4 linked regions of the Homo sapiens genome follow. The protein of the gene in region 2 interacts with the protein of the main gene of each other region in a pairwise test. Each region holds a gene or a part of one and is shown on either strand. Other genes may lie near its edges.

Evidence for each region.
Region 1: the proteins of MAGEB2 (region 2) and ECSIT interact in binary tests that used the Homo sapiens proteins (3 or more experiments, as listed by UniProt).
Region 3: the proteins of MAGEB2 (region 2) and ZBED1 interact in binary tests that used the Homo sapiens proteins (3 or more experiments, as listed by UniProt).
Region 4: the proteins of MAGEB2 (region 2) and ARID3A interact in binary tests that used the Homo sapiens proteins (3 or more experiments, as listed by UniProt).

What each region holds. Positions count from the first base shown.
Region 1 is NC_000019.10:11,512,124-11,519,147, forward strand, and holds part of ECSIT (evolutionarily conserved signaling intermediate in Toll pathway, mitochondrial isoform 1 precursor), read right to left. Parts: coding exon 6,952-7,024; intron 2,099-6,951; coding exon 1,681-2,098; intron 1,157-1,680; coding exon 933-1,156; intron 1-932.
Region 2 is NC_000023.11:30,211,725-30,218,564, reverse strand, and holds the start of MAGEB2 (melanoma-associated antigen B2), read right to left. Parts: upstream 3,003-6,840; 5' UTR 2,910-3,002; intron 37-2,909; exon of another isoform or gene 1-36. UniProt on the Homo sapiens protein: May enhance ubiquitin ligase activity of RING-type zinc finger-containing E3 ubiquitin-protein ligases. Proposed to act through recruitment and/or stabilization of the Ubl-conjugating enzyme (E2) at the E3:substrate complex.
Region 3 is NC_000023.11:2,497,963-2,505,283, forward strand, and holds the start of ZBED1 (E3 SUMO-protein ligase ZBED1), read right to left. Parts: upstream 3,015-7,321; 5' UTR 2,964-3,014; coding exon of another isoform or gene 2,855-2,963; intron 2,664-2,854; exon of another isoform or gene 2,349-2,663; intron 1-2,348. Other genes in the region: DHRSX (polyprenol dehydrogenase), read right to left, coding at 2,855-2,963.
Region 4 is NC_000019.10:964,016-971,039, forward strand, and holds part of ARID3A (AT-rich interactive domain-containing protein 3A), read left to right. Parts: intron 1-232; coding exon 233-416; intron 417-817; coding exon 818-1,065; intron 1,066-2,556; coding exon 2,557-2,853; intron 2,854-4,389; coding exon 4,390-4,488; intron 4,489-7,024. UniProt on the Homo sapiens protein: Transcription factor which may be involved in the control of cell cycle progression by the RB1/E2F1 pathway and in B-cell differentiation.

The sequences.
Region 1 (7,024 bases), on a different chromosome or scaffold from region 2:
CGCTTGAGCTCACGAGTTTGAGACCAGCCTGGGCAACATGGTGGAACCCCATTTCTACAAGAAATACAAAAATTAGCCGGGCGTGGTGGTGTACGACTGTAGTCCCAGCTACTTGGGAGGCTGAGGTGAAAGGATGGCTTCAGCCTGGGAGGTGGAATTTGCCGTGAGCCAAGATAGTGCTACTGCGCTCCAGCCTGGGCAACAGAGCCAGACCTTGTCTCAAAAAAAATATGAAGAGGTCTGAGGGGCTTGTTTGCCCCTTATATTATGTGAGGACACAGCAAGGTGTCATCTTTGAAGCAGAGAGCAAACCCTCACCAGACCTAGATCTGGTGGCACCTTGATCTTGGACTTCCCAGCCTCTAGAACTGTGAGCAATAAATTTTTGTTGTTCATCAATGACCCAAGCTAAGAGATTTTGTTAGAGCAGCCTGAACGGACTGAAGCAGAGGTCACTCAAGCTGTGCTAGCAGTAAGGACCATGGGAACCTACCAGGGGACTCAGCCAGAGAATCAGAACTCAATTCACGGCCAGGCACAGTGCCTCATGCCTGTAATCCCAGCACTTTGGGAGGCCGAGGCAGGAGGATTGCTTGAGCCCAGGAGTTCAAGGCCAGCCTGGGCAATATAGTGAGACCCTGTCTCTGAAAAAAAAAAACAGTTTTTTTAATTAGCCAGGCATAGTGGTGTGTGACTGGAGTCCCAGCTACTCAGGAGGCTGAGGTGGAAAGATCGCTTGAGCCTGGGAGGCAGAGGCTGCAGTGAGCCGAGATAGTGCCACCACACTCCAGCCTGGGCAACAGAGCAAGACCCTGTCTCAAAAAAGAACTTGATTCACCACAATCACTAGAGTGAGAGAAGGGGAGCCCAGGGGAGGAATGGCGGGAGCCTGGCCTGGGGTGGCAGCTGACGCTGTAGACAAGGGCGGATACCTGGTAGATGGTGACCCTGGCACTAAGGTCAGGCTCCATGTGCCGCAGGCCAAACATGGCCAGCTCCACAGGGTCCTGGGGCAGGTCCCGGGGCACTGGGAAGGGGTTGACGTTCATGAATCGAGGGAACCACAGCTTCAGGCGCACCAACTTGAGCATGGGGTAGCTTTTGCGTCCAAAGATCTGAATCAGCAGGAACTCCGTCTCCTTGTTGGGCATCACACCTGTGCTGGGCAGATGCAGGCAGAACCTCAGAGATGGAGGGGGAGGAGGGAAGGGAAGAGGAGAAAAGAAAACAGTGAAGTGAGGGAATTGATCACAGACAGGGAGAAAAGAATCAGAGAGAATTAGAAAGAAAAAGGCTCATGCCTGTAATCCCAGCACATTGGGAGGCCAAGGGGAGAGGATCACTTGAGTCCAGGAGTTTGAGAGCAGCCTGGGCAACATAGTGAGACCCCATTTCTAAAAGAAAGAGAGAAAGAGAGGAAGGAAGGGAGGGAGAGAGAGGCAGGGAGGAGAGGAGAAGAGAGGAGAGTGGGGGGAGGAGAGGGAGGGAGGGGGGAGGGGAGGGGAGGTCAGAGGGAGGCAAGAAAGAGAGATGAGTGATGAAAAGAGGGATTCGGAGAGGGAGAAGAGCGAGAGAGACAGAGACGGAGCCATGGAGGAAGGAGGGGCTGAGACTCAGGAGAGGTGCTGCCAGCTATCAGTGTAGCCCACTCCCCACCCTGCGCCAGCCTCCTGGCCTCACCGTGGTTCTCCATCTGCTCCAGGACAGCAATCCCACACTCCTGCTGCCGAGGGTAGTGGACGAAGATGCGCTGGATGATGTTGCGAGGCCGGAAGACCTCCTTGGGGAAGATGTTGAGCAGCTGGTTGTACACAGCCAGGTCCCGCTCGACACCATACTCCCGCATCTTGCGCAGGGCCAGGTAGATGAAGTCAATGTGGCCCCGCTTACGCACGCTGTGCTCCGCAAATTTCTGCACCGTCTGCAGGAAGCTCGCCTTGTCCCGTTCCCCACCAGGCGCCTGCCCAAACAGGTCCTCAAAGGGCACCAGAGCCTTGGTGGGCCTCTGCCGGGGTTCCGGTGGGCTGGGAACCAGGGACTGTTCAGAGCTATGGGCAGCTGCGCTGCAGTGGAGGCCCCGAGGGAGCCGGCGAGGGACCTGGGGAGGGAGGAGAACTGCTGGAATCTGGCACCTCTCAGTGTCTATGGGGGGCCGCCAGGCTGGCTCTTTCCTCAGAGAGGTCCCAGTGGCCTCCCTGAGGACTCGGAGGTATGGAACTGTGGTTACAAACCCAAGATTCGAGGCCATTACAAAGTGCGATAAAACACAATGCTGGCACAGTAGGGAGGAAACAGGCACTGTTAGCCATGGCTACGGGGAGCTGGTAAAAACTGCCACGGAGGCAACTTGGTAATATTCACAGTGATGACACACACATGCCGGTTTTTTTTTGGGTTTTTTTTTTTGGTTTTTTTTTGAGACGGGGTCTGGCTCTGTGGCCTAGGCTGGAATGTAGTGGTGCTACTGTGGCTTACTGCAGCTTTCAACTCCTGGGCTCAAGCAATTCTCCTCCTCACCCTGTCCAGCAGCTGGAACTACCGGTGTACACCACCACACCTGGCTAATTTTTAAATTTTCAGCAGAGACGGGAGTCGCACTATTTTGCCCAGGTTGGTCTTGAACGCCTGGCTTCAAGTGATCATCCCGTCTCCACCTCCCAAAGTGTTGGGATTACAGACATGAGCCACTGTGCCTGGTGGCCCTTTTTGCTTGTAATTTTTTTTTTTTTTTTTTAGACAGAGTCTCATTCTGTCACCCATGCTGCAGCGCAGTGGCGTGACCTCAGCCCACTGCAACCTCTGCCTCCCATGTTCAAGCGATTCTCATGCCTCAGCCTCCCAAGTAAGCTGGACTACAGACGTGCTCCACCACGCCCTGCTAATTTTTGTATTTTTAGTAAAGATGGGGTTTCATCATGTTGGCCAGGCTGGTCTCAAACTCCAGGCCTCAAGTGATCCACCTGCCTCAGCCTCCCCAAGTCTTTTTTTTTTTTTTTTTGAGACAGAGTCTCGCTTTGTCACCCAGGCTGGAGTGCAGTGGCGCGATCTCGGCTCATTGCAAGCTCCACCTCCCGGGTTCACGCCATTCTCCTGCCTCAGCCTCCTGAGTAGCTGGGACTACAGGCGCCTGCCACCACGCCCAGCTAATTTTTTGGATTTTTAGTAGAGACGGGGTTTCACTGTGTTAGTCAGGATGGTCTCGATCTCCTGACCTCGTGATCCGCCCGCCTTGGCCTCCCAAGTGCTGGGATTACAGGCATGAGCCACCGCGCCCGGCGTAGCCACCTTAAGTCTTGAGATTACAGGCATGAGCCACTGTACCCAGCCCCTTCTTTCTTTTTCTTTTTTTCTTGAGACAGAGTTTCACTCGTCGCCCAGGCTGGAATGCAATGGTGTCATCTCAGCTCACTGCAACCTCTGCCTTGTGGGTTCAAGCGATTCTCCTGCCTCAGCCTCCCAAGTAGCTAGGATTACAGGCGCCTGCCACCATGCCCAGCTAATTTTTATGTTTTGTTTGTTTGTTTTTCCTGAGATGGAGTCTCGCTCTGTTGCCAGGCTGGAGTGCAGTCACACGATCTCAGCTCACTATAACCTCTGACTCCCTGGTTCAAGCAATTCTTCTGCCTCAGCCTCCCAAGTAGCTGGGATTACAGGCACATGCCACCATGCCCAGTTAACTTTTGTATTTTTAGTAGAGACAGGGTTTCACCATGTTGGCCAGGCTGGTCTTGAACTCCTGACCTTGTGATCCGCCCACCTCGGCCTCCCAAAGTGCTGGGATTACAGATGTGAGCCACCATGCCCGGCCTAATTTTTGTGTTTTTAGTAGAGACGGGGTTTCACCATGTTGGCCAGGATGGTCTCGAATTCCTGACCTAAGGTGATCCACCCACCGTGGCCTCCCAAAGTGCTGGGACCCTTTAAGAGATGGAGTCTAGCTATGTTGCCCAGGCGGGAGTGCAGTGGCTATTCACAGGCATGAGCCAACTGGTCAGCACAGGAGTTTTGACCTGCTGTTTCCAACCTGGGTCAGTTCACACTTCCTTAGGCAACCTGGTGGTCCCCCAAGTCCCAGGAGGTCACAATATTAAGCAAAACTTAGTGCAGGACACTCCATCAGCATAGTGCACAACAGCCCAGAACTCCTGGGCTCAAGTGATCCTCCCACCTCAGCCTCCAGAGTAGCCAAATTCTGGTTCTAGATGACACAGTAACAAATTTCTTATTTTAAATTGAATTTTTAAATTAGAAGGGTTACATATAAGGCATCTTAAAAATATACAGCTAGTTATCAAGGTTGTACTGTGCTTTGATTGCACCACCGCATTGCAGCCTGGGCAACATAGTGAGACTCCATCTCTCTATGAAAAAATAAAAAAATAAGCGGGGCGTGGTGGTGTATACCTGTAGTCCCAGCTACTCAGGAGGCTGAAGCAGGAGGACTGCTTAAGCCCAGGAATCCCAGGCTGCAGTGAGCTATGATTGTGTCACTGCACTCCAACCTGAACGAGAGAGTAAAACCTTATCTCTAAAAAATAAATGAATGTGTGTGTGTTTATCTACACACACACACACACACACACAAAACGCTAACAAGTAAGAGCCAATATTAGTCCAGGCTCGGTGGCTCACACCTGTAATCCTAGCACTTTGGGAGGCTGAGGCGGGCAGATCACCTGAGGTCAGGAGTTTGAGACCAGCCTGGGCAACCTGCTGAAACCTCATGTCTACAAAAAAATACAAAAATTAGCCAGGCATGGTGGTGAATGTATGTAGTCCCAGCTACTCAGGAGGCTGAAGTAGGCAGATCAATTGAGACTGGCGGGTCGAGGTTGCAGTGAGCCAAGATCACGCCACTACACTCCAGCATGGGCAACAGAGCGAGACCCTATCTCAAAAGAAAGAGACAATATTTACCAAATATTCTTCCACTGTAGACACAGTTGAGCACTTTACAAATGTGAGGCCCTAGGTGGGGGGTACTCTTACTGCACTCATTTTACAGATGAGAAAAACCAAGGCTCAGGAAGATGAAGTGGGATGCACAGTGTTACACAGCTGCAAAGCATCAGAGCTGAGAATGGAGTCAGTGCCCTCAGTCCCCCTACTCTGCGGTCCCCACAGCCATCCCATATCGTTCTTTGATAAGGCAATGTTAAAAAAAAAAAAAGGCATTCATTTACAGTAAAATTTCAGGTTGGGCGCAGTGGCTCGTGCCTGTAATCCCAGCACTTTTGAGAGGCGGGTGGATCACTTGAGGTCAGGAGTTTGAGACCAGCCTGGCCAACATGGTGAAACCCCATCTCTACCAAAAATGCAAAAATTAGCCAGGTGTGGTGCCGCACACCTGTAATCCCAGCTACTCAGGAGGCTGAGGCAGGAAAATCACTTGAACCCGGGAGGCAGAGGTTGCAATGAGCTGAGATCACGCCACTGCACTCCAGCCTGGGTGACAGAGGGAGACTCCATCTCAAAAACAAAAAACAACTGAAATTTCAGTCAATTAATAATATAGGTGGTGTAGTATTGTACCACTTTGGGGTAAAAATCAGAAAGGAAGCTCTAAAATGCCTAACGAGGGGGAAACACTGCAAAGGAGGTAATGTAAATGAAATGCATAGTGCGGGGCCGGGCACAGAGTAAGTGCTCAATATGGGAACTATTAATATTCCCACCATCATCGTTATTGCTATCTATGGCTGTCAATCTGCTTTCGCCATCTGGTCACTATGGGTATAGGAAAGAAATTCAGTTTTCTGCCCCATCTTCACAAGTAGATGCAGGAGGAGCTGCTCACAGTCACCACACAAATCCACCGAGCTCATACATCCTTATTTTCAAAGTCAATCCCCTCACCCACGTAGGCACTAGCATCTCTTAAATTAGGGTCCAGGCACAGTGGCTCACACTTGTAATCCTAGCACTTTGGGAGGCCAAAGTGGAAGGACTGAGGGCCCAGAGGTTCAAGACCAGTCTGGGCAACACAACAAGACCATATACTTAAAAAAAAAAAAAATTAGCGGCCGGGTGCGGTGGCTTATGCCTGTAATCCCAGCACTCTGGGAGGCCGAGGCGGGTGAATCACCTGAGGTCAGGAGTTTGAGACCAGCCTCGCCAACATGGCAAAACCGCGTCTCTACTAAAATTACAAAAATTAGCTGGGCGTGGTGATGTGCACTTGTAATCACAGCTACTCGGCAGGCTGAGGCAGGAGAATCACTTGAACCCAGGAGGCAGAGGTTGCAGTGAGCCAAGACCACGCCACTGCACTCCAGCTTTGGCGACAAGAGCAAAATTCCATCTAAAAAAAAAAAAATTAGCTGGGCATGGTGGCTCAAATCAGTGATCCCAGCTACTCAGGGGGCTGAGGTGGGAGGCTCATTTGAGCCCAGGAGTTTGAGGCTGCAGTGAGCCCTGATTCCACCACTGTACTCCAGCCTGGGTGATAGAGCAAGACCTTGTTTCAAAAAAATAAATAAATTATGGACTTTTGGCCAGGCGCGGTGGCTCACGCCTGTAATCCCAGCACTTTGGGAGGCTGACGCAGGTGGATCACTTGAGCCCAGAGTTCAAGACCAGCCTGCCCAACATGGTGAAACCCCGTCTCTACAAAAAAAATACAAAAACTAGCCGGGTGTGGTAGTATGTGCCTGTAGTCCTGGGTACTTGGGAGGATGAGGCGGGAGGATTGCTTGAACCTGGGAGGTCAAGACTACAGTGAGCTGTAATCACACTACTGCACTCCAGCCTTGGTGACAGAGACACTGTCTCAAAAAACAAACACATAAACATACATACATACATAAACTAAGGACTTTTAATGGGACCTCGGCACTGATAGGCCAGCCCAGACTCACCAGAACTGGCTTCACAGAGTGGATTCTGAAGGAGTTGGGAGCAAATCCCAAGCTTACCTCCCTCTACCCAAAAGACTGCCTGGCTGGTGCTTACCTGAGAGATGGAGGTTCCTGTGAGGGCGGCCCCGCAGGTGCCTCCCCAGGCCCTACAGAGGCCTCGGGCCAGT
Region 2 (6,840 bases):
AAGAAATGTGGGCAGAAGAATAGATGGTTAGTATACCTGGAGATGGGAGAATGAGATCTGTGAGCACCTTCAGCTGGAAGACCCCATCTTAGCTTTACTGAAGGAAGCCTGCCTTTGCAAGTTTCCCTGAAGGCACTGTTCTAGAAAGCCACAAGGCTCCTGTCGTCCTGGTTATCCTTTCCCCTGAGACACCAGAGAAGAACCACAGAACCCCTACAGTGAGTTTCAGACTGCATTCTGTCAGCCCTTCCTTGGGCTTACTATGGTGACAGGAGGTACTGGCAGTGCGGCCTCCTGTCTTCTGGTGTTTGGGGTTTTATCAGTTAACTTTTAGGATTATCATATGAAGTCTTGGCAGGGCCTGAGCCACTCCCTTCCGCTACTGTGAATTTGACACCTCAAAGCACCCTGGGACTCATGAGAAGAAATTGAAGGGGTGCCTCAACCACCACCCTGAGAAGTGACACCCAGTGCTGAGAGTTCAGTGGGGTCTTTGATGTCTTGGAATCATTAGAGTCTTCAGCTCTCATTCAAGGTCCCCACCTTGGCTTCATGTAGGGCTTGGCACCAGCCCCCTTCTGCTGAGTGGTGGCTACACCGTCAGACTAAGAATCTCACCTCTCTTAGATCTTATATAAAAAAGAGAGGGGGACACTAAACCTGATAACCCTTTCCTGAGCTTTCTAGGGCTGAAAATAAAGGGTTGGACTGGATTCTTTGATGTCTCCACTGTTAAGGGTTCAGTGGTTCCTTGAATTCTCAGATTCCTCAATTTGACTCCTGGTAGAGGAGCTCTCCTTTTTATTGAACTGAGGCCTATGTCGTCATGGTAAGAGTGAACATCCCTGAGAACCCATAGGAGGAAGTGAGGGTGGCCTTATCTGACCAAATGTGGTCTTCCCAAAAGTAAAAGCTGTGGCAGGCAGATAACTGCCCTGTGATAGATGGTCCCACATACAGTCCCAACTCAGCCTCTAAATTTGACTCATGAGAGGGTCTAAGATTCTTCCCTGATATGGTTTGGATCTGTATCCTCACCAAATCTCATGTCTAACTGTAATCCTCAATGTTGGAGGTGGAGCCTGGTGGGAGATGACTGGATCATGAGGGCAGGTTTTTCATGAATGGTTTAGCACCATTCCCCTTAACGATGACTTCTCATGAGATCTGGTCATTTAAAAGTGTGTAGCGCCTCCCCTGGCCTCTTGATCCTGCTCTGGCCATGTAACATGTCTGCTTCCCCTTCCCCTTCTGCCATGATTGTAAATTTCCTGAGCCCTGCTCCCAGAAGCTGAGCAAATGCCAGCATCATGCTTCCTGTACAGCCTGCAGAACTGTGAGCCAATTAAACCTCTTTTCTTTGTAAATTACCCAGTCTTGGGTATTTATAGTAATGCCAGAATGGACCAATTAGTACATTACTTCTGTTGACAAGTGATCACCACCCTCAGATTAAAACTCTCATTTCCCTGTTACCCTTGAGTGGGAACTGATGGGCACCTCTGTTTCACATTTCTGCCTGGGGTCTCTCAGAGCTGACAGTACTGAGGATTGTGTGGCTCCCACTAATATGGGGTGGGAGCCCCCTGCAGTCGTCAGAGTTCTTATCATAACATCTGGCACAACCTGGAAACCCTCCCTCTGCTGACCTCAAGCTGCCTTTTTTTTTTTTTTTTTTAAGAGACGGAGTCTCGCCCTTTCGCCTAGGCCGGACTGCAGTGGCTCTATCTCGGCTCACTGCAAACTCCGCCTCCCAGGTTCACACCATTCTCCTGCCTCAGCCTCCCGAGTAGCTGGGATTACAGGCGCCCGCCACCGCTCCCCGCTAATTTTTTTTTTGGTATTTTTAGTAGAGACAGGGTTTCACCGTGTTAGCCAGGATGGTCTCGATCTCCTGACCTCGTGATCCGCCTGTCTCGGCCTCCCAAAGTGCTGGGATTACAGGCGTGAGCCACCGCGCCCGGCCAGGCTGCCCTCTTTAATGGGGTCGTTCACTTCTCTGAGATGTCTTGGGGAGAGTGAGTACAACTCAACATGCCATGCTCAGGTCTCCCTGGTCTGACAACAAGAGTGGGCTCTATATGGCACTTCTTTCTGGTTGGAGTCCCCTCCTCATCACTCAGTGTCACATCCTTGCTTCCTGTTAGAGACTGGGCCTCTCTGTCGCATTAGACCTACCCCATTACACCAAGACCCTCACCTCCCTGAGACCACCTCCAGAGGAAACTAGAGAGCATCTCAGCTTGCTAGCTTTGCCCTGACCTTCCTATTGCTGGCAGCAGATGTGGGTCTTGGATGTAGCCCTCAACTTCTTTAGTCCCGGGAGAGGAAGTCAGGTTGCTCTGCATTTGTCATGTCAGCCTGGGACCATCTAAAACCCAGTGTCACCTCGGCCTGGGAACTGCCCAGCATGACTCCTCTTTTGGGTAGAGGTCCGCTCATTAATACTCAGAGTCCTCACCTTAACCCCAGTTAGGTTTTAGGTTGATGCCATATGAGCAGAAGCAGGGCTGCTTCCTAGGTTCAAGGCCCTCCCCTCCCTGAGACTTTCCAGGCACAGCTTTGCTGGGGCCTCCCAGAGCCGTCTTCAGGGACGAGACTTAGTGAGGCCACCTTTGTTAAGGGTAGGAGATGTTCTCTTCAGTCCACATTTAGGGCCCTCAAATTGATTTCAGTTAGGGCCTACACCCACCCTACGTGCAGAATGAGGCCTATTCCCTGCGTCCAAACCTCCTTCCCCCGCGACTGCCCCTCCCCCCACCCTTCCCCTGCCCTGGAACTTTCCAGGTGGAACATTGCCGGACGGCTTTACCGGAGCCTCTCAGGACCAAATGCAGAAGCGGGACTTAGTGGGGCCCTCTTTGTTACAGGTGGGGGTGGTCTCTTCAGTTTACACTCAGGGTCCTCACCTTGACTGCCGACCAGTCCTGAGAATTCACCCCTGGCTGACCAGACGCCGCACCCCCTACACTCGCTCGGGTCCTCGCCTCCAAAGCGGAAGTCAGGATGAGCCACATCCGCTCGGGTCTTTTTTTTCAAAGCGGAAGTCAGGATGACTCACATCCGGCAGCCCGTGGCGTCTGAGGGCTGACGGCTGGACGCTACCGGACGTCACTGTTCTAGCGTTGCTGGTCCCTTCGTCTCCACTAGGGGTCCTCACCTCAGTATCTAGCAGCCTGGGACGAATATGCGTGCTGACCCAAATCCGCCAGCCTCCAAACAATACCCCCACCTCCCTCAGCCCCCACTGTGGAAATCTAAGCGTGCCAAACAGGCCACCCCTGCCTGGGCCTCACAGGCCTGACAGCAGCGGCAGGGCTCTGTGAATGTGCCTTTTTTGGGGAGAGGTCTTCTCATCCGCCCTCAGAGTCCTCACCTTGATTCCCGTGAAAGCCAAGACTCTCTCTCTGCACAACTGGGGTCACCCTCTTCAGACAAAGGCCCTTCCTTCCCCGAGACTATACAGGTGGAATGAAGGGGATTCAGAGATACTTATTTTGGGGCCTCTCGGTGCTAACAATGGCGAGGGGCTCTGTTTGGCCCCCTCTGCTGGTGTTGCAAGGGGGAGAGCCCCCTCGTAACACTTAGGATCCTCACCTTGATTCCTGTTAGGGCGTGGGTTTTGTCTCTTTGACCTAGGGCCATTTCCACTAGTCCAAGGTCTTCACCTCTGTGAAACACACGAGGCATATTGATGGGATTTCTCCACCTCATAATTCTCTTCTGGGCTCCCCAAGGGTGACAGCATTGGTGGAATTTGTGGGCTCCTCTGTTCTGGGGTGGGTGGTTTTGAAACTGCCCCTATGAACTGTATAAAATTAATCAGGGAAGAGGGAAGGGAGATAAATGAAGATACGCCAAGCTTGCAGAACATTCAGCATTAATCATGAAGTCAGCTGCTCTCTGACCTGCTTCCTCATAGTAGTTTGGTGCCTATTATCCCAGAATCATGTAGATCCTGTTACTAGATTATAGTTGCCCTTAATTGCTCTATAGATAACAATTTTAACATAATGAAACTTTTTTTCTTTGAGATATTCCTTAAGGTCCTGCATACTGATGATTCTAATGACTCAGCTGGTCTGAAGGACCCCACTGATGCCAGCTGCTCTAAAGGACCCTACTGACATCAGCTGGTCCAAAAGACCCCACAGGAGCTGACTAAAAAAAAAAAAACGCAGTTTCCACATTCTGATGATTTCATCCCCTTTACCCCAACGAATCAACAACCTCAGTTCTCCAGCCCCTCGCCCTCCATGATCTCCTTGCAAATCCCAGCCCAGAACTCCTTGGGGAGATGAATTTGAGAGTCTCTTCTCATCTCCTCACTTGGCACCCTGCAATCATTAAACTCTTTGCTGCAAACTTTGCTGTTTTATTATAGTGGGTCTGTTACTTTGCAGCTGACACAGAAACTCGTTGGTCCTATAACAGTTCTCTTATTTCTCTTCAGGGTCCTCACCATGACACCTGGCCAGTCTTGGGGCACTCCATCCTCCACTGACCTGAGGCTGTTCCCATCAGATCAAGGTACTCACCCTCTGCCGACCTCTGAACTGGAAGTTGTGGTGAGCTACATTTAGCCAGGGCTGTTCTGGACTTTGAAGGGCTGACAGCCTGAGCTGGACTTTTTGGGACCCCACAGTTCTGGCTGGGTCCTTCCATCATCTTCATTCAGGGTCCTCACGTTCATATCTATCAGAGGCTGAACTGCATCTACTGACATGAAGTTGACCTTCTTAGGCCATGTCCATGAGAGGTCTGAAGATTAAATGAGTGGATGCTCAGCCTGACAGTTCTGTCTCGAGCTCTCTAGGTCTGAGAGCAGATGAGAGTCAGTCTATGCATAACCTCATATATTCTGAGATATTGGTTTCCCATGTCCTCTGAACTGGGGATCATCTTTCATTAAAGGCTTTCTGGGAAATGTCACATCCCTGCAAACATGACCAGTTTTTCTACTGCAAACCTTGCAGAGAAGGAGCCGTGTTCCGGGAGTGATGTGAGATAGGGAAGCTGAAGCACAAGGCAGAAGCTCCAGGACAGGTAGTGGGCTGTCAGAGAAAAAAACATGCTGATTTTTTCCATCTTGCTAGACTTAGATTCTCACGAAAATTCTGTTCTGACACATTTATTTTCTACAGGGAAGAGACTGTCCAGGATGATTTTGGGAGCTTCTGATCTTTTGAGATTACCTGATATTGCTTGTGTAGATGAACGTATTGACACCAGGTACTATTTTTCTTTTTTTTATTTATGCCTCTCATTTATTTTGGCATTCATATTGGTCTGGGAATATATTTGACCCAGTAGTATGGGCACAGAGTCCTTCTTTTTATTGCCTGAGATACATTTTTCAAAAATAGAGAGAAAAAATGAATGAAGCAACATGAGGTTAGCCTCAGAATGGGAAGACTGGAACAGTGTGGGATGTAGATTAATCCAGACTGGGGGTCTGGTTTCAGCCCTGCCACTTACCAGCTATGTGAACTCAGGCACATTACTAAACTCTGTGAGCCTCAGGCTCTGCATCTGTGAAATAGGTTTGATAAGCCCCTTCCTTGTGGAATTGGTGAAATGTGGTTAATGTATGTAAAGCACCTGGCACAATACTTGGCCCATATTGAGGTTTCAACATGGCAGCTATTACCTATGATTAACTTGATGATACCACCCATCCCACTGTGATTGCTTTTTCTTAATCCAACAGATGTCAGAGAATATGCAGCATTCTAGAAGAAAGAAAACCCAATAAGCCAAAATGCAGATTAGCACGAAAAATCAAGTAATATTTCCCCATTAAATGATAAATTATTCAATGTGAGGTAGACTTCTCCAGTTAGGTGCAACACAACGCATTTGCGTCAAGGACTAACAACTTCCTTCCCTCCCAGTGTCACTTCCATCTAAATCACCTTTATTTTCATTAATTTAACAAGCACCAAACACCTAGAACTTGCCTAGAGCTTGCCAAATTATGTACATGATAGCCTAATTTGAATGCTCCTTTTAATGAAATTGACTCTTAACTCTTCCAGCCCAGTGCAGAGTACCCAGCGGCTTCTTATCATTTCTTCTTAAGGGAGTATCATCCTTATTTCTCCGAAGCTCACTGGATACAATGTATATAAAGCAGCTAGTTTCTGCACTGTGTTCATCTGCACTGGGACAAGAGCATAGTCACTTTCCAGTGCTGCCCCTGGTGGAGCTTCTTTCCAGTTTTCTCCAAAGTTAAGAGCACTTTTCCATTATAGGCTTAGTCTCTCAACTCTGAAGCTTACCATCTGAGGGTCTTGCCCTGCTCACCACTCCCACAGCCTCCTCCAGTCCAGCATGCAGCCTCACTTAAAATTACCTCCCAGTGAGGGACCTGCAGTTTCCCAAGGCCCTAGCTTTCTTTTTCTCAGAGCATTTACACTACACACTCTCATCTGGAACCCTTCCCACTTTCTTACCTGCCTCCATCTTTTTTAACCTTGTCCTTTGGATCTGAGAGATACTTTCACCATGTATTTGTATGATAGCTGCTCCTAACGACTAAAATTCTTTGGACAATGGGTAAAACTTTCTTTTTTTATTTCTTCTCATCTCCTTCATCTCCAGTACTAACATTGAGCCTTCCAAAGAGCAGAGAATTGATTAATATTTAGGGAATAAAAGAGCCAATGAACAAGAGTACTAAATGAGTACAATTTAATTTATCTTACATTTTTGAAAAAGCCAAACAAATCCAGCTATATATCTTTTAATTTTTTAAAAAGAAAGGCTAAAAGGAATAAGGCAAATCAAGAATTGAACACATCTCACCTTTTTTTTTTTATTTCATGATTTTAACTATTT
Region 3 (7,321 bases), about 28 Mb from region 2:
ATGGATATAGTCTTAAGAACACAGAGACAGACCCTCTTATGGGAATTCTCAATTTGCTTCTAAACCCCCTCTGTAAAGGCATGACCAACATCTATGATTAATTTGTAATTATCTTGTTTTTCCATGATGAACTGTAAGAAGACACCATTTAGGAGTGGATTCCAGCCACAATTTCTTCCTTCTCATACCATGTAAGTCAACTCATGTGGAAGGTGTAACCCAGGCATTTCCTTTGTACGATACCTAAGAAGAACACGCTCCATTTGGAAGTTCTAAGAAAAAACTGCCCTTGCTTCCAATCTGCAGTGGGGAAATTGGCCCTCTTGGTTATTCAAACAGCTTAGCTCAAATGCCCTGGACAAAGTTCAATGTTTCCTCACCAACAGCGAAGGCCTACCAGAGAGAAGCAAATAAAAAATGCCGTTTAGGAAGCTGGCCACCAGCAGACCAAGGACAACAGCATTCCTCCACTGGTATCGAAAATTATTTTTAATCCATACATAGGAAGGGGCTCGATGAGGGCAAGCCACTTAAGTTAATCTTTAGAGAAGGCCATTCTGTTTCGATACACACCCGGGTACAGATTCCCTTGGCAGACACGTGACTTCACCAGAAGCTCGTCCTCTTTAACAACCTTCTGTTGTTGTTTAATCAGTAAATGGGAAAAAAAAAAAAAAAAAAGATTCCAGCCCTTTTTCTAATGCACAAAGAGCAAGTTTTTCAAAGGCCAGCATTTTGGTGAGCTGCTGCAGGAACCCCGGCCTCTTCTGCCAGGGCCCACACAGGCCCTTAAGGAGGTTTAAGGGGACCTTTCTGTAAGCAAAACTGCCCGGATAAACATAATCTTCTGCGAGACTCCACACAATTGTTCAGCAGCTGTAAACCGTTCACCTTGCAACTGATTACTTACTTCAAACAAACATGCTCTCCTGCCCTCCGAAAGCCTGACTACAGTTCCCTTTACTCTCCTTCTTCTATGCATTTGTAATTATGCTAAGTGGGTTTAAAAAAAAATACTGAAGGCCAGTTTGGCAGAAAAAGAAAAGCTTAGCTCACAGAAAACTCAAAGCTCTTTTTCTCTGGCTAGAGGCGGGAGAGAGAGGCTCATTTTAAAACATCCACTCCAGGCACGCTTCTCAAAGGGTGGCGCTGGGACCCCTGGGATTCCTTCAGTGGGTGCAGAGTGGAAGTCAAAAGTCATTTCACAATAAGGCACCCAAGCGCTTCGCCTGGCTGACTCCCAGTCTCCCAGAGGCGTGCAGTAGTGTCTTCCAGAGGCCTCCTGACATGCCATGAAACTGTCTACAGAGGCAGAAATAACAGCTCTCTTCTTAGGCTGGACATTTAAGACATTCAGGGCAACGTACACCCCCACCCCCACCACACTGACCCTCTGAACGCTCTGTTTTGGAAAACTGTTATTTTTGAAACAAAGTATCATTTAACCTAACATGGAATTAACATTCCCTTTATTCCAGTTCACAAATAATTGTTTACAGGTTTCTAGGTTTAAATTGAGAATATGGGCTGGGCACAGTGGCGCTCTGTCTGTAATCCCAGCAGTTTGGGAGGCCCAGACTGGAGGATTGCTGCAGGCCAGGGGTTCAAGACCAGCCTGGGCAACATGGTGAGATGCCATCTCTACAAAAAATTTAAAACATTAGCCAGGCGTGGTGGCTCACGCCTGTAAACCCAGCACTTTGGGGGACCCAGGTAGGAGGATTGCTTCGGCCCATGAGTTTCAGACCAGCCTGGGCAACGTAGCAAGACCCTATTGCTACACAAAAAAATTAAAACATTAGACAGGTGTGGTGGCTCACACCTGTAATCCCAACAGTTTGGGAGGCAAAGGAAGGAAGATCGCTTGAGCCCAGGAGTTCGAGACCAGCCTGAGCAACATAGCAAGACCCCGTCTACAAAACTTTAAAACATTAGTCGGATGCAGTAGCTGGTGCCTGTAATGCCAGCACTTTGGGAGGCTGAGGCAGGAGGACTGCTTGAGCCCAGGAGTTCGAGAGTAGCCTCGGCAACAGAGCAAGACTTCATCTCTACTTCCTATTACAAAAAATAATAATAATAATAAATTCTGAACCTGCAAATCTAGGAACAGAAGTTATCTGCATACACAAAACACAGTGGCGGTCATCACTGATGAGTTCAGACAGTGAACGAGTCCTGCAAAGTTGGAGATCTGTGACTCAGAGATGTTTACAAAGGCCAAGGAAACAAAGTTGCCACTTAACGGGCCTGCCCTCCCCACCAGACCTCCGTGGCTCCCCAGTGCCCGAGAAGCCGCCTCTGGGCCCCCTCTGGAGACGTCCTCCGGAGAAGGGCCCATCCTCACTTACCCTGGGGTGGGTAGGGGTCGAGGTCCCTGGGACGCCCGCTCCTCCCCTCCGGGGCCTGGCGGGGGCGCGCGGTCACTGGCCGACCGCAGGCGGCAGGCAGAGCCGCCTGATGTCTTGGGCGCGGGGCGTGCGAGCCCCCGGGTCCCCGGCCATGGCCCGGAGGTGTCAGGGTGCGCGGGGGGGCGGCTGCACGGGGGCTGCTTGGTTGGAGCCCGACCCGGGACAGGCGGGGAGGCCACACGCGCGGGGAGGGAAGGGTCGGGCCGGGTCGGGCCGGGCCAGGCGCGCAGAAGAGCCGGCGGGGACGGAAAGCGCGGGGCGGGGAGGTCCCAGCGCGCACGCCGCCCCCCCCCCACCCCCGGCCACACCTCGACCCCCGCCCAGCCCCACTTCCGGGAGCGCCACCGCCTCGCCAAGGTCACGCGGAGCCCCCGCGCCCCCGCCCCCGAGCCAGCCCGCGCCCACCCGGGTCCCCGGAGCCCTGACCCCTGCCCCGCCCCGCTGACCTGGCTCCAGGAAGCCCCCGCGGCAGCGCCGCAGCAGCTGCGCCAGGATCACCGCGGCGCCTACCGCGTAGACCCGCAGGGCCGCCCGCGCCGCAGACAATGGCGACATGGCTGCCCCGGCCGCGCCGCCGCCGCTTCCGCGCCGCCCGCGGGACTCTGCGCCCGCCCGCCCGGACGGACGGCGGAAACGCGCGCGCCCCGGACCGCCCCCTGCCCGCCCCGAACCGCCCCGGCCTGCGGGGAACCCCCAACCCCAGACCCCGCCCGGGCCCTCTGGGATCCCGCACCGCCTGCAGGACTGGGGACCCCGAGCGGACAACCGACCCCAGCCAGGACACCCCCCCCAGGACCACAGACTCCAGCCAGGAACCCCCCCCTGCAAGGACCATAGACTTCAGCCAGGACCCCCCCCCCCAGGACCACAGACCCCAGCCAGGACGCCCCCAGGACCACTGACCCCAGTCAGGACCCCCCCTTCAGGACCACAGACCCCAGCAGGGACCCCCCACACACACCCCCAGCCAGGACCACAGACCCCAGCCAGGAATCCCCCCCAGGACCACAGACCCCAGCAGGGACCCTCCACACCTCCTCCAGGACCACAGACCCCAGCAGGGACCCTTCCCCCTCCCGGCAGGACTGCAGACCCCAGCAGGGATCCCCACCACCACAAGACCAACAGCCCCAGCCAGGACGCCCCCAGGACTACAGACCCCAGCCAGCACCCAAGTCAGATCCATAGACTCCTCCCAAGAACACCCCCCAGGACCCCAGACCCCTGCTGGGACCCCCAAGACCACAGGCCCCCCCACTGGGGCACGCCCAGACACCCCACCAAGAACCCCACCAGGACTACAGACCTCCACCAGGACTCCCCAGTACCACAGATCCTCCCAGGGCCCCCCAGGACCACAGACCTCCACTGGGACCCCCACCACCAGGACCCCTCTCCAGGATCACAGACCCCTACTGGGGCCCCCTTCTAGGACCTCCACCTCCATCACAACCACCCCCCGGACCACAGGCCCCAGCCAGCACCCCACAAGACCACAGACCCCTGCCAGGACGCCCCCCAGGACTACAGACCCCAGCTGGACTGCCTCTCCAAGACCCCACACTCCAGCCAAGACCATGGAACCCCATTCAAGCCCCAGCCAGGACCCCCACCATGGGATCACAGATCCCCTACCCAGACCCTGCAGGGGACCAGGACCACCACGGGAACCACCCTCCCCATCTTAGCCAGAATCATGTAACCCCACGCAGACCTCAGCAGGGACCACAAGGACTTGGACCCCATAGGGAACCCCAGACAACCACCCAGAGCCATGCCAGGATTATGGACCAGGACTCCCACAGAGGACTCTGAACAGCTGTAAGGACCATGGACCCCACACCCTAATTCGTACTGACACCACAGAACCTGCCCCAAGCACGGACCCCACACCCCAGTTCCTGCTGACACCACAGAACCTGCCCCAAGCACGGACCCCACACCCCAGTTCCTACTGAGACCACAGACCCCACCCCAATTCCTGCCAGGCCACAGACACCACCCACCAAACCTACCCCTCCACTTCCCTGCCCCCAACAACCCTGCAGGGATCACAGACCCCCTTCCCGGCCCCTGCAGAGAACTCCAGACTACTTCAGGGACCACGAGCCCCCTCCCCACCCTGATCCCTACTGGGACAGCAGACCCCTACTCAGACCTTGGTTGGGAACCCCAGACAACCACAGAGTTACCTGGGCTCCCTCAGGGAACCCCAGACCAGCACAGAACCCCCACCCAGACCCTTACCAGGGCCAAGGCTGAAATCCCACATGGACCCCCCAGCAGACTCCTACTGGAATTCTTCATGGAACCCCCCACCCAGACACTCAGACCTTCACCCCACCACAACCCTCCCAGTCCCACACCTGGTCCCCCAGGGGACCCCAGACCTGGCATCCGGGACTCCACACAGATCCTAACACCCGCTGTGTTTGGGAGACAGGAGCCTGGGAGAGCTGGGGTGACACCATTTTAATCATCAACTCCATCTTAAAAACCAGGAAGACACATTCCTTGCCGGTCACGGCCCATGGTCATAAGATGTTTACGGCTGAAGAAATGACTTAATAATGCCTCCAAGGACAAACACAGACGACAGCGGAATGTCTGGATGTCGCCATATCGCGTAACCACATATGCTGTTAAAGATAATTACAGTCATGCATGGACGTGCTTGGGCGCGAAAATGCAAAGGATGGCTCTCTCTAAATCAACTAAGGAATAAATGTCACGCCGTCAGACATAACCTAGCTTTTACATAGATAAGACAGACCCCTATAGAAGGAAGCTTTAAAACAAACACAAGGTGTTACACCTCTATGACAAAACAGTTTCTTTTTTTTTCTTTCTTTCTTTTTCTTTTTTTTTTTTTTTGAGACAGAGTCTGGCTCTGTGGCCTAGGCTGGAGTGCAGTGGCGCAACCTCAGCTCACTGCAACCTCCACCTCCCAGATTCAAGAGAGTCTCCTCTCTCAGCCTCCCTGGTAGCTGGGATTACAGGCATGCACCAGCACACCCAAATAATTTTCGTATTTTTAATAGAGATGGGATTTCACCATGTTGGCCTGGCTGGTCTCAAACTCCTGACCTCAGGTAATCTGCCCACCTCGGCCGCCCAAAGTGCTGGGATTACAGGTATGAGCCACCACACCCAGCATGTAATGGAATAGTTTCTAATAAACTAAAACTTCCCTGTACTCTTATGACTTACCTTGAATTACTTCTTGAGCAATATCCAAGAACCCACTCTTGGGGGCTAGATCGGGACCCCTCTCCTGCAACACTGGGACCCTAAATCACCAACCCTATCATCCCCAGGACCCAGACCTCCACCTTCACTCTAGGTCTGCACCCTCATACACGTGCCGATGGGCACCCCCCAGCCCCTGCCGAGGTCCAGGAGTGAGAATCTCCACCAGCAAGTCACCTGACCCTAGCCAGGAACTCTATCCCTGCTGGGAGCCAGAACCCCACACTCCACATCTCACTGGGACCCTGGCACCTTGCAGGGCCACAACCTATCTGGAACTTTGGCCCCCATTGGGATGCATCCCCACTCCCATAGGAATTGAACCCTCCAGGCCTCACTCCCCACAGAACCTCAACAGGCACTAAGGGGCACCCCCAGTGTGCAGGTTGCACCCAGCCACTGGGTGGGCTCTGGTGCAGATCTAAGATGATTGGAATACAGAGACCTACCCGGCGACCTCAGGTGTGGCCAGGTGACCAAGCTGGGTTAAGAAGGGTCTTTGTGGCCTTTGCAACCCTCTGTCCTACAGATGAGGAAACTGAGGCCAGGAAGACCAAGGGATGGGGCTGTCCCATTTGGCCAAGTGTGCCAGGTATCTTCACATGTGCCCAAGTATGCTCAGGTGTCGCCAGGTATGCTCAGGTGTGATTCAGTAACCAGGTTGGATTAAGAAGGCTCCTTGTGGGCCAGGTGCAGCGCCTCACGCGCACAATCCCAGCACTTTGGGAGGCTGAGAAGGGTGGATTGCTTGAGCCCAGGCGTTCGAGACCTGCCTGGGCAACATAACAAAACCTGTCTTTATTATTTTTATATAAAAAAATTAAATTAAAAAAGAGGGCTTCTCCAGGCACAGTGACTCACGCCTGTAATCCCAGCACTTTGGGGGGCCAAGGCGGGCAGATCACCTGAGGTCGGGAGTTCGAGACCAGCCTGGCCAACATGGAGAAACTCTGTCTCTACTAAAAATACAAAATTAGCTGGAAATAATGGCGCATGCCTGTAATCCCAGCTACTCAGGAGGCTGAGGCAGGAGAATTGCTTGAACCCAGGAGGCGGAGGTTGCAGTGAGCCGAGATTGCTCCATTGCACTCTAGCCTGGGCAACAAGAGGGAAACTCCATCTCAAAAAAAAAAAAAGGTTATTCCAGCCTTTGCAACCTTCTGTCCTACAGATGAGAAAACTGAAGCTTTCTCGTTTGGCCATGTGTCCAGATATCCTGAGGCGTGCCCAGGTATCCTCAGGTGTGACCAGGTATGCCTAGGTGTGGCCAGGGCACCCAGCCAGAAGCATTGGGAAAATCCACAGTCACCCCTGTCCCCACCTTAAAGTTTTCCCAGGAGAGCTGCCGTTGCATGGGGTGTGAAACCGTGACCCCACTGCCAAATTCAGAAGGACCAAGGATTCCACCAGGAGCAGCAGGGGAGTGGGCTTATTGTAGCCCGACATGCTCCTCCCTTTGGGGACTTCTGGTAGTTATCTAAAAGGATGTTTGTGAGCAAAAGGATAGTGACGTCTAGAGCCATGAATTGGGGGGCTAAAAGCAGAATGCATCACCTGGTGCTTCCAGCAATGGTTTGGGAGACACCCCTACCTTCCCCACAACCCACTTATCTTCTCAGAGGCTCATTTCATCATCTGTCATATATTGACTTTGATTTCCATGT
Region 4 (7,024 bases), on a different chromosome or scaffold from region 2:
TACTGGTGGATAAACCGAGGCAGAGCTGCCCCCTCTGCACCCTCTCGAGCAGAGGTTCCCAGCCTGGATGATCCTGCACCCACAGAGGGCCCTGGGCAATGTCTGGAGACATCTGTGGTTGTCACAGCCTGGGCGGGGGAGTGCTCCTGGCATGGAGAGGGCGGAGGCCAGGACACTCGGCTCCCTGCAGTGCCCAGGTGGCCCCCAACCTCCCTCTCGCCCCTTCCCCCAGGGACACCTGTGAACCGCATCCCCATCATGGCCAAACAGGTCCTTGACCTGTTCATGCTGTACGTGCTGGTGACGGAGAAGGGCGGCCTCGTGGAGGTCATCAACAAGAAGCTGTGGCGTGAGATCACCAAGGGCCTCAACCTGCCCACGTCCATCACCAGTGCAGCCTTCACCCTGCGGACCCAGTGAGTGGCGGACGGTTGTGCCGAGGTCGGGCCAGGGCACTCTGAGCAGCCAGTGCAAGGGGCCTGCAGAAGAGGGAGGGGGTGGTGGGCAGCTGCAGAGGAGGGGGCAGTGGGCAGCCGCAAAGGGCACAGGGCCACACCGTGCGTCCAGGGCCCGAGAGCGTCAAGTAGGGGTGCGAGGACCACACAGTCTCTGGGGTTGTGCAATCAGGGGCCATTGCGAGGAACAGCATTGAGATGGAGGGAATGGGCAAAGGCCCAGCAGCTCTGGGGGCTGCTGAGCAAGTCCAAGGGAAGAACCAGGGATGGTGGTGCCACAGTGGGGTTTACTTTGTACTGAAGGCCAAAGAGAGCCGTAGGGGTGACCCGGGTGCCATCCTCTTCCCTCGTCCCACCCACAGATACATGAAGTACCTGTACCCCTACGAGTGTGAGAAGCGGGGCCTCAGTAACCCCAATGAGCTCCAGGCAGCCATAGACAGCAACCGACGGGAGGGCCGGCGCCAGAGCTTTGGTGGCTCCCTCTTTGCCTACTCGCCAGGCGGGGCACACGGCATGCTCTCCTCACCCAAGCTACCCGTGTCCTCCCTGGGCCTGGCCGCAAGCACCAATGGCAGCTCCATCACCCCCGCCCCTAAGATCAAGAAAGGTAAGGGCCTGTATGGGGCCTGGGGCGTGTTCCCAACTGAGCTTCAGCCTGGCTGTCTGACCTTGGGGGATACCTCTTCCCCTCTCTGGGTAACCAGGATGAAAAACCCTATAGTTGGCATGGAAAAGGGCTTCCAATCTACCAGTCCTCTGCCTATGGCAGACATTACCAATCCATCACCATTTTCTAATTCCACACAGGTGGCAGGCAGACATTGCTAATCAATCTGTGTTTCCAGTCCTGTGGCCAAGGCAGACATTACTAATTGATCACTGTTTTTCCAGTCTACACTGAGGCAGGCATCATCAGTTGATCAGTTTTCCCTCCCACTGAGCCTCTGAATCCTCCATAACACAGAGGTACCAACAGCACACACAGCAGTGTCACCTCAGTTTGCCTGTCTGAGTTACCATTTCTCATCTGGGCAACATAGTGAGACCCCATCTCAAAAAAAAAAAAAAAAATTAGCTGGGCGTGGCAACGTGCACCTGTGGTCCCAGCTACCCAGGAAGCTGAGGTGGTCAGATGGGTTGAGCCCAGGAGGTCGAGGCTGTGGTGAACTGAGATTACACCACTGCACTACAGCCTGAGCAACAGTAGTGAGACCCAGTCTAAAAAAAATTTTTTTAGGCCAGGCACAGTGGCTCACGCCTGTAGTCCCAGCACTTTGGGAGGCTGAGGCAGGCGGATCGCTTGAGGTCAGAAGTTTGAGACCAGCCTAATCAATATGGTGAAACCCTGTCTCTACTAAAAATACAAAAATTAGCCGGGTGTGGTGGCACACACCTGTAGTCCCAGCTACTTGGGAGGCTGAGGCAGGAGAATCGCTTGAACCCAGGTGGCAGAGGTTGCGGTGAGCCAAGATCACGTCACTGCATTCCAGCCTCAGCGACAGAGTGAGACTCCGTGTCAAAAAAAAAAAAAAAAAAAATTAGCTTAGTGTGGTGGTGGGCGCCTGTAATCCCAGCTACTCAGGAGACTGAGGCAGAAGAATCACCTGAGCCTGAGAGGCAGAGGTTGCAGTGAGCTGGGATCGCGCCACTGCCCTCCAGCCTAAGCAACAGAGCGAGACTCTGTCTCAAAGCAAAAAAAAAAAAGGCTGGGCGCGGTGGCTCACGCCTGTAATCCCAGCACTTTGGGAGGCCGAGGCGGGCGGATCACCTGAGGTCAGGAGTTCAAGACCAGCCTGGCCAACATGAAGAAACCCCGTCTCTACTAAAAATACAAAATTAGCCAGGCGTGGTGGCGGGTGCCTGTTTCCCAGCTACTAGGGAGGCTAAGGCAGGAGAATCACTTGAACCCGGGAGGCAGAGGTTGCGGTGAGCTGAGATCGCACCATTGCACTCCAGCCTGGGCAACAAGAGTGAAACTCCGTCTCAAAAAAAAAAAAAAAAAGAAAAGAAAAGAAAAAAGAAGGTGCATGTTCCTGCCTTGAGTGGAAGGCAGGGCCCAGCCCCTCCTGGCCACCAATTCCCCTTTTTTCCTACCTAGAGGAGGACTCAGCCATCCCCATCACAGTCCCTGGCCGCCTGCCTGTGTCCCTGGCGGGCCACCCTGTGGTGGCAGCCCAGGCAGCAGCTGTGCAAGCAGCAGCCGCCCAAGCAGCTGTGGCCGCACAGGCAGCTGCCCTGGAACAGCTGCGGGAGAAGCTGGAGTCTGCAGAGCCTCCGGAGAAGAAGATGGCCCTGGTGGCCGATGAGCAGCAACGGCTGATGCAACGTGCACTCCAGCAGAACTTCCTGGCCATGGCGGCCCAGCTGCCCATGAGCATTCGGATCAACAGCCAAGGTACTGCCCTCGTGCCCAGACCCGCTGTGCTTCCTGCGTGTGTCACACAGTGAGGGCCTTGGAGCCTACATATGTAAAGAGTGCCAACAAATCAATAAGAAAAAAAAAGCCGGGTGCAGTGGCTGACATCTGTAATCCCAGCACTTTGGGAGACCGAGGTGGGTGGATCACTTGAGGTCAGGAGTTCGAGATCAGCCTGGGCAACATGGTGAAACTCCATCTCTACTAAAAATACAACAAATTAGCCGGGCGTGGCAGCGCACCCCTGTAGTCCCAGCTACTTGGGAGGCTGAGGCAGGAGAATCACATGAACTGGGAGATGGAGGTTGCAGTGACCCGAGATAACGCCACTGCACTCCAGCCTGGGCAACAATAGCAAAACTCCATCTCAAAAAATAAAAAATAATAAAGTAAACTGGCTGGGCACCGTGGCTCATGCCTATAATCCCAGCACTTTGGGAGGCTGAAATGGGAGGATTGCTTGAGCCCAGGAATTTGAGATCAGCCTGAGCAACACAGTGAGATGCCATCTCTACAAAAGTTAGCTGGGCGTGGTGACACGCTCCTGTAGCCCCAGCTACTCGGGAGGCTGAGATGGGAGGATCACTTGAGCCCAGGAAGTCGAGGCTGCAGTGAGCCATGATTGCACCACTGCATTCCAGCCTGGGTGACAGAGCAAGACCTGGTCTCAAAAACAAGGTAAAAAAAAACAAAGTGGAGTATGGACAAATACACTTATTCAACAAATAAATATTGAGCACCTACTGTGTGCACTGGTGACAGCATGAATGTGACAGACACCGTCTACACCTTGTAAAGCTAAAATCTAGTTGGCGAGACAGACAGAAAACAGAACATGTCACAGGTGTCTTTATGATCAGAAATGGCAGTTTTGGTCGGGCGCGGTGGCCCACGCCTGTAATCCCAGCACTTTGGGAGGCCGAGGCGGGCAGATCACCTGAGGCCAGGACTTCAAGACCAGCCTGGCCAACATGGTGAAACCCCGTCTCTACTAAAAATACAAAAATTAGCCGGGTGTGCTGGTGTGTACCCATAGTCCCAGCTACTCAGGAGGCTGAGGCAGGAGAATTGCTTGAACCCTGGAGGTGGAGGTTGCAGTGAGCCGAGATCGCACCACTGCACTCCAGCCTGGGTGACAGAGTGAGACTCCGTCTCAAAAAAAAAAAAAAAGAAAGAAACTCATTTGTTCGGCTGGGCACAGTGGCTCATGCCTATAATCCCAGCACTTTGGGAGGCCGAGGCGGGTGGATCACGAGGTCAAGAGATCGAGACCATCCTGGCCAACATGGTGAAACCCCATCTCTACTAAAAATACAAAAAATTAGCCAGGCGTGGTGGCGGGCGCCTGTAGTCCCAGCTACTGGGAGGCTGAGGCAGGAGAATGGCGTGAACCCAGGAGGCAGAGCTTGCAGTGAGCTGAGATCGCGCCACTGCACTCCAGCCTGGGCAACAGAGCAAGACTCTGTCTCAAAAAAAAAAAGAAAAAAAGAAACTAATTTGTTCTTCTTCCCACAGCCTCCGAAAGCCGCCAGGACTCTGCTGTGAACCTGACGGGCACCAACGGCAGCAACAGCATCAGCATGTCGGTGGAGATCAACGGCATCATGTACACAGGTAGGACCCCTGAGGCCACGCCCTGCCTGGACCTCGCCTCTCCCGCCGCCGTGAACTCAGGACCCTGAGTTGCGCCTGGTCCCACCTGCTTGAACCTAGGTGTGCGGGCGAGCAGGGCACGGCCAGGGGCTTTGCAGGACAAACAGTCAAGACTGATGGAGAGGATACCATCGTTCACCCGGTACCACGCTCAGCCCAGAGGGGGTCGTCCACAGATACATATTCAGTGTGACGTTGGATGGTTCACATTCCTAGTTTTTTGTTTTAATGAGACGGAGTCTTGCACAGACATGCACCAGCACACCTGGTTAATTTTTAAATTTTTTGTTGCTCTTTAAATTTTAAATTGCTTTGTTGCTCAGACCGGTCTTGAACTCTGGGCTCACGCAATCTTCCTGCCTCGGCGTCCCAAAGTGCTGGGATTACAGGCGTGAGCCACCGCACCCAGCCAATCCCAGCATTTTCGGAGGCTGAGGAGCAAAGAATGTATAAGCCCAGGGGTTAGAGACTTTCAGGCTGCAGCAAGCTGTGATGACGCCACTGCACTCCAGCCTGGGCCACAGACCGAGACCCTGTCTCTTGAAAAAAAATTTAATGAATGTATTTTTTATTTTTTTTAATTTGTAATTTGTAATTTTTGTGGGTACATAGTAGGTATATATATTTATGGGTTTTATGAGATGTTTTATACTGGCATCCAATGCCTAATAATCACATCAGGGTAAATGAGGTATCCAAAAAATTGAATCTAGGCTGGGTGCAGTGGCTCATGGCTATAGTTCCAGCACTTCGGGAGGTTAACACGGGAGGATCACTTGAGCCCAGGAGTTCAAGACCAGTCTGGGCAACATAGTGAGACCCCATCTCTCCTAAAAATATAAAAATCAGCAGGGCGTGGTGGCAGGCGCCCATAGTCCCAGCTACTCGGGAGGCTGAGTAGGGAGGATCACTTGAGCCCAGGAGGTGGAGGTTGCAGTGAGTCAAGATCACACCATTGCACTCCAGCCTGGGTGAAAGAGTGAGATCCCGTCCTTCTCTCTCTCTATATATCTATATATAGATATATCGATAGATATAGCTGTAGCTATACATAGATATATATAGATTAGATATAGATTTATATGTATCTATAAATACATATATACTTTTATATCTATATCTACATAGATATATATATATATAGTTGTTTTTTTTTTCTTTTGAGAGGGAGTCTTCCCTCTGTCACCCAGGCTGGAGTGCAGTGGCACGATCTTGACTCACTGCAACCTGTGCCTCCTGGGTTCGAGCGATTCTCCTGCCTCAGCCTCCCCAAGTAGCTGGGACTACAGGCGTGTGTCACCACACCCAGCTAATTTTTTTTTGTATTTTTAGTAGAGATGAGGTTTCACCATGTTGGCCAGGCTGGTCTTGGACTCTTGACCTCAGGTGATCCGCCTGCCTCGGCCTCCCAAAGTGCTGGGATTACAGGCATGAACCACCGCGCCCACCCTATATATACATATTTTTTTAAATAAAATGAATTAAAAAGTTGCCGGGCACAGTAGGTCACACCTGTAATCCCAGCAGTTTGGGAGGCTGATGTGGGTGGGTCACAAGGTCAGGAGTTCAAGACCAGCCTGATCAACATGGTGAAACCCCATCTTCCCTAAAAATACAAGAATTAGCGAGGTGTGCTGGTGTGTGCCTATAATCCCAGCTGCTTAGGAGGCTGAGGCAGGAGAATTGCTTGAACCCGGGAGGCGAAGGTTGCAGTGAGCCGAGATCGCGCCACCGCACTCCAGCCTGTGCAATGGAGCAAGACTTCGTCTCAGAGGAAGAAAAAAAAAAGAATTAAAAAATTTAATTAAAAAAGTGGAGTCAGTGCCAGGGGCAGTGGCCCACGCCTGTAATCCCAACACTTTGGGAGGCTAAGGAGAGAGGTTTGCTTGAGGCCAGCCTGGGCAACACAGAAGACCCCATCTCTACAAAAGAACATAAGTAAATGAATAGTTTTTCTTTTTTTTTTTTTTTTTTTTTTTTTTTGAGACAGAGTCTCACTCTGTTGCCCAGGCTGGAGTGCAATGGCATGATCTCAGCTCCTGCAACCTCCGCCTCCTGAGTAGCTGGGATTACAGGTGCATGCCACCAGGCCCGGCTAATTTTTGTATTTTTAGATGATACGGGGTTTCACCATGTTGGTCAGGCTGGTCTCGAACTCCTGACTTCGTGATCTGCTGGTCTTGGCCTCCCAAAGTGCTGGGATTACAGGCATTAGCCACCACACCCGGCGGTAAATGAATAGTTTTTCTTAAAGTGGAGTCAGGCCGATGGTTCATAGTGGCCACCAGGTGGCGCTGTCGACACAGAGCAGCCTTGTTGCAGGCCCCCGCCCGGCTGTGGTCAGAGGCTGAGCTGAAGGTCAGTGGTGTCCTCACAGGTCCACAAATGGATTTTTGAGGGGTCCGTGCCCTCCGGAAATCAGATGTAAAACGTGTACATTCATATTGAATCTTACAGGGGAGAAGGCCAACTGTGTGCTAGGGGTCTCGCAACCCCA